Linked DNA regions of Homo sapiens: region 2 is linked to region 1. The links come from fine-mapping of genetic effects on gene expression. Tissue or cell type: transverse colon. Region 1 holds a variant in brackets; the other region holds the start of a gene. All regions are shown on one strand. Distances are between the middles of the regions. Region 1 overlaps SCCPDH (saccharopine dehydrogenase (putative)). Region 2 holds the start of SCCPDH (saccharopine dehydrogenase (putative)).

Evidence for each region. PIP is the estimated chance that this variant, and not a neighbour inherited with it, causes the effect.
Region 2: SCCPDH starts here. The variant in region 1 is fine-mapped to the expression of SCCPDH in transverse colon (GTEx, PIP 0.99).

The regions. Positions count from the first base shown.
Region 1 is chr1:246,754,234-246,757,146 of GRCh38, reverse strand. The region is part of intron 5 of SCCPDH (saccharopine dehydrogenase (putative)); the gene reads right to left. It also overlaps the pseudogene RPL35AP6. Among named protein-coding and RNA genes, the nearest start is that of SCCPDH, 31 kb to the right of the region's middle. The variant A/G (reference allele first, on the strand shown) is at 1,682.
Region 2 is chr1:246,722,708-246,725,620 of GRCh38, reverse strand. It overlaps SCCPDH (saccharopine dehydrogenase (putative)), which reads right to left and starts at 1,212. Exons shown (of 12, transcript NM_016002.3): 1 at 1,009-1,212. The coding sequence starts at 1,198. RefSeq lists silencers at 859-1,068, 1,169-1,238, 1,279-1,408 and an enhancer at 1,619-1,778.

The DNA.
Region 1 (2,913 bases):
GTCTCGAACTTCTGACCTCAGGCAAGCCGCCCGCCTTGGCCTCCCAAAGTGCTGGGATTGCAGGCATGAGCCACCGCGCCCGGCCTAGCACTGACCTTTCTTTCCCAACCTCTAGGTGGGCCTTTTAATTCTCTATTACAGGAATAAACTTCATTTATTATATTGATTGTACATAATTGTATTATGTCCTTCCTTCTATGTTGTTTACATTGTTTAGGTCAACAGAGTAATTCAGAAAGATTCAAAACTAATTCTGTCACAAGATTTTCAAAGAGGGATATGTGGGAGGCAGATATGAAGGTACCTTTCATTGTTAATAAACAAAATAAGAGAAACAATAAAACCATCCAAAGATTCAGGTTTTCCTATCTCAGCTTTGATGATACTGAAAAGCAGAGATACCAAATCTAACTTTCATTCTGGTACAGATTTATTTCTTCTGTTTTATTAAAACTACAACAGAACTAAAGTCTTAAAGGTTTGATTTGTTATCTACTCAATCTGAGCCTAGCCAAAAGGGCCTATGTGAATCTCTACAAATGTAAAGATTCCAAACACCAGGAGAAAACAGCTTTTTAAAAATCTAAACATATTTTCTTATACAACTAAGCCATTGAAAAGGAAAAAATTACATTCAATTTAAAAAACTATTTGCGTTTCACAGAAAAATATAGAGACGTACCTAATACAATTTTATTAAATTGTATATTCATGTATGTTATGAAGCCAACGTACATGTAAACATCCAGGTCAAGAACTACAGGTAACCAGCAACTAAGAAGGCCCTCCTTCCGTCCTGCCTTTACAGTAATCAAGAAAAATTCTTTTCTTTAGAGTTTAATCACCTAAGAATTCATCCCTAAACAGTACAATTAGTTTTGCCTGTTTCTAAGCTCTACAGAAATGCAATCAAGCAAGATTTATTACTGAGTGTTTGGCTTCTTATGCTCAAAATTGTGATGTCAGGATTTACCACGTGTTGTAAGTAACTCCTACATTGCAGCTAGCCTTTTGACTTTCTTAATCGTGTGTTTTGGGAAACATTCTCAATTTTAAAAGTACACAAACGTATCACTTTTTCATTACATTTAATGCCTCTTTGTCTTTTTGTAAAAGCCATTCCCAACCGTGAGGGCATCCACAATCCATCTAAACTTGATTTTGGTACGGGGTGCAAAAGTATGAATCCAATTCCATTTTTTCTCCAAGTAGATACTCAATTGTCCCAGCAGCATCTACCGAAAAGCCCCCTTGCTGTTCCTGCCAACTTGAAGCCCGGAGGCCTGCTGGGAGGAGGAATTCTAAATGACAAGTATGCCTGGAAAGCTGTGGTCCAAGGCCGTTTTTGCCGTCAGCAGGATCTCCAGAACCAAAGGGAGGACACAGCTCTTCTTAAAACTGAAGGTATTTATGGCTGACATAAAATGAGATTTGATTTGGGCAGGAAATGCGCTTATGTGTACAAAGAATAATACTGACTCCTGGCAGCAAACCAAACAAAACCAGAGTAAGGTGGAGAAAGGTAACGTGTGCCCACGGAAACAGTGGCACAATGTGTGCCTAATTCCAAAGCAGCCGTCCTGCTTAGGCCACTAGTCACGGCGGCTCTGTGATGCTGTACTCCTCAAGGATTTGAACTAATGAAAAGTAAATAAATACCAGTAAAAGTGGATTTGTAAAA[A/G]GAAAAGAAAAATGATAGGAAAAGCCCCTTTACCATATGTCAAGGGTTTATGCTGACTTAATAACAGGTCTTGATCTCCAAGAGTGTCTTTCTGCCTTATTCTCTTTCAAGAATATCTTGCCTGTTCTCAGCCCTTTGAGTTTCCACATACATTTTAGAAACAGCTTGTCCAGATGCACATCGAAACAAAACAAACAAAAAAACCTGTTTGTGATTTTGATGGGAATTGCATGAGATTATAAACAAATTTGAAGAAAATTAACTACAAAATGGATTCATATTTTAATCCATGAATACGCTGGATCCTTCAATTTATGTCTTCTTTATGGTCCCTCAATAAAGGTTTACAGTTTTCTTCAAAGAAATCTTGTACACTTTCTATTACTTACTCTTAGGTACTTGATTTATTTAATGCTATCATAAATGGTGTTTTTTACAAAAATAATCACCTTCTAACTGTAGCTGGCATACAGAAATACAGCTGATTTTTATATTAATTTCATATCCAGGAACAATAAAAACTATTGTGGAAATAAATGAAACAGAATAGAAAAAATCAACAAAACTAAAAGTTGGTTCTTTGAAGAGGTCAACAAAACTGACACATTTTGGCTAGACAGACCAAAAAAAAGAGAAAGAAAACCCAAACTACTAAAATCAGGAATAAAAGAGGGAACATTATTACCAACCTTATAGAAATAAAAAGGAGTATAAAGGAATACTATGAAAAGTGTATGCCAACAAATTAGATAACCTAGGTGAAACGGACACATGTCTGCTCAGTGGATCACGACCCTCTCACACGGACCCCCTTAGAGTTGTAAGCCCTTAAAAGGGACAGGAATTGCTCACTCGCGGAGCTCGACTGCTGGAGACGTGAGTCTTGCCGAAGCTCCCAGCCGAATAAAGCCCTTCCTTCTTTAACTTGGTGTCTGAGGGGTTTTGTCTGCAGCTTATCCTGCTACAGCCTAGTTGAAAAAATTTATGTTCAAGTGCTATTTCTTTTGCGGCACTGAAAATTTACTTCTAACAAATTTGGGGGCCCGCCCGGGATTCCCATTCTCCTTTGGTGAAGGGTCTGGTCCTCTCCCATGAGGAGGCATGCCCCGCTGCCTTGTTGCAGTGGCCTCAGGGGTAAGGAATCAAGACCCACCGGGTGTGACAAATAAACCCGGACTCTCAGCAATGCAGAAAGAAACTGGCTGGCGACCTGGGGAAAGGGATCATCACAC
Region 2 (2,913 bases), 32 kb after region 1:
CTACGTGGTGTCTTCTGTACATAACCACGAACAAAAGCACTCCGAGCAGGGCATTGTATGAAAGTAGATTAAACAGAAAGAATGTAGTATTTCCAGAACTCTAATGGGTGTCTGTATAAGGGAAATCTACGGGAGTTAATAGCCAAATTTAAAGGCTACGGAGTCGTAAGTCAGATGTCTCCCCAGCCATGAAGGCAGCAGGATCCGTGTGTCTGTCTCCTCTCTGTCCCATCCTGCACCCCAGACTCGGGACAGGTCTTAGCATGGACAACGTCACTCAATAAATATATGCTCCTTCAATGCTTAGAGAATCAATAAATATATGCTACCTGAATGCTTAGATTATCAATAAATATATGCTACCTGAATGCTTAGATTATCAATAAATACATGCTACCTGAATGCTTAGAGAATACGTAAGCGTCTAAACCAGAAATACACACTTTTTATTCTCTGAAGAGGAAGACTGCTGGAGTATTCTTACACACAAAACAAGAAACTAAAACAGAATAGCCACAAAGACACTGTCAGTACAACTCGTAAGCTTGCTCTCCCGTCCTCAAAACACGAGGCAAAGGGAGACTCCGATCTCCAAGAGACCAAAGCCCTCCTCTCCTCTCCGACCAAACATCTAGAAACCCGCAGATTCAACAGGTGCCCCCGCTGCGGGGCAGGATGAAGCAGAGAGAGGGACAACTCAAGTTCTTGACCATTTCGCCAGGGGAGCTCCCCAAACTGAGGCAGAAATGCAAAAAGCGGGAAAGAGGAGAAGGAAAGAAAAAAAAATGTGTGTGTATATTATACACGCACGCGCACACACACATATAGTTAAGGAGGTGGGACAAAGCTATGGCAGTATTTGAAACATCTCTCCCTCTCCTCTTCTTGTCCTCACGCAGGGCTCGGGGACACGTAGGGCGCATCCCTGCGGGAGAAACGCTCGTTTGGGGCGATGCGGGGTCCCCGGCCCAGCCGCCCGCGCAGCCCCGTCCCGCCCCGCCGCTGTACCCAGCTTCAGGGCCGCCTTCTCCAGCACCCGCTGCAGCTTCTCCCGGGAGCGGCCCGCCACGGCCCAGGGCAGGCGGGAGCTCCGCTCCGGGTCCACCTGCTCCCGGGCCACCTCCTCGGTCACGAACTGGCCGGTGAAGCCAGACGCGCCGAACACCACCAGGTGGAAAGGCCTCTGCTCGGTCGCCATGACGAGTCCACAGCGAGCCCAGGCCCCGGGGCGGGTGGAGTCCACGGCGCCTGCGCCTCAGGCAGCGACCCCAGTACCCGGCGCAGCAACGGCCGCCGTCGCCGCAGCCAGCGCGCCGGGCTCCCTTCACCCCGCGCGCGCCGCCGCGCCAGGGCCGCGCCCACGCCCACGCCGCCTCGCGCGGGAGCCGCGGGTGAGCGGCTTGCTTGGGAGGCTTCCGACGGGAGGTTTCCTAGGGCGGTGGCCCTGGGGGCGAGTCCGCTTCCAAGCCTGGCAGGCGCGGACGGCGGCCCCTAATTCCGTGCGGCGGTTTGTTCTGCAGGGCTCTGGCCGCCCCGGGCAGCGCATCTTCTAGCCCTGCTGGAAGCTGGAGGCGGCAGCCGGTTGTCCTTGTTGCACGTGGGGGTGGAGCAAAGAGTGCGAGAAAATCTGCGGATGGCCTCGGGGATGGCCCACCCCGAGAACCCTTGAGCTTGCTTGCTTTCTTCCTTTCTTTCTTCCCTTTTTTCCCTTTCTTTTCTCTTTTCTGTTTTTGAGATGGAGTCTCACTCTGTCGCCCAGGCTGCAGCGCAGTGGCGCGATCTCGATTTACTGCAACCTTCGCCTCCTGGGTTCAAGCGATTCTGCCTCAGCCTCCCGAGTAGCTGGGATTACAGGGGAGCGCCCCCACGCCCTGCTAATTTTTGTGTTTTTAGTAGAGATGGGTTTTCACCTTGTTGGCCAGGCTGGTCTCGAACTCCTGACCTCAGGTGATCCACCCACCTCGGCCTCCCAAAGGGTCGGGATTACACGCATGAGCCACTGCACCCAGCCCATTCCTGATTTTTAAAAACTCTCATTAAAATAGGAATAAATGAATGCTTTTAAAAATTTTGAAATATATGTCTTGCAAAAAAGGTACAGCCAATAACAAATATGTACCCTCAACACAGCTTAAGAAAAATATTCCAGATAGCGAGGCTTCCAGGTATTCATTCCTGAACACATTTCCTTTTGCGTCCCCAAGACGGCCACTTGCCTGAATTTAGTGTTTATTATTCCTATTCCTATCTTTCTGCTTGTTATATATGTATGTATTTATAAATATTATAGTACCGTTTTGCATATTTTGAATATTTTGTAAATGTCAATCCTGCAGCTTTCTTATTTGGTCATGATGTCGTGAACTTATTCCCAAATGATTCAGAATAAAAAAAAATGTCTGTGATACGTGTGTGGAGAGAGGGAGAGAGAGAGAAATACACCAAATTCTACAATGCTTTTGTACAATGTTGTATAGTGCTTTTGTGCAATATAATACAAAGAATGCTACAATAAAATTCTTGTACCTTTCTCCTAAAGCACCTGTGCGAAAGTGTATTGAATATGTGTCAGGAATGAAAATGGTTGGTGCTAGAATATCCATATTTGAGTTATCTCACTGCTCTTTAAAGCACATGCACTAATTTTCGCTCTCAGCGGGATACAAGAATCCTCTTGCTTTACGTGCTTGTCAGCACTTGGTATTCTCAGACTTCATGCTTGTCCATCTGGTGGGTGTAAAGTAGTAAGCATTCAAGTATTTATTAAACACTTAACTATATACTGGGCACTAGGAATAAAGTACTGGGGATATGGCAACAAATAAAGCCCCTGCCCTCAAGAAGTTTACATTCTAGTGGAGTAAACAGTCACTAAAAAATAATCTTACAGAGCCAGGTACAGTGGCATGCACT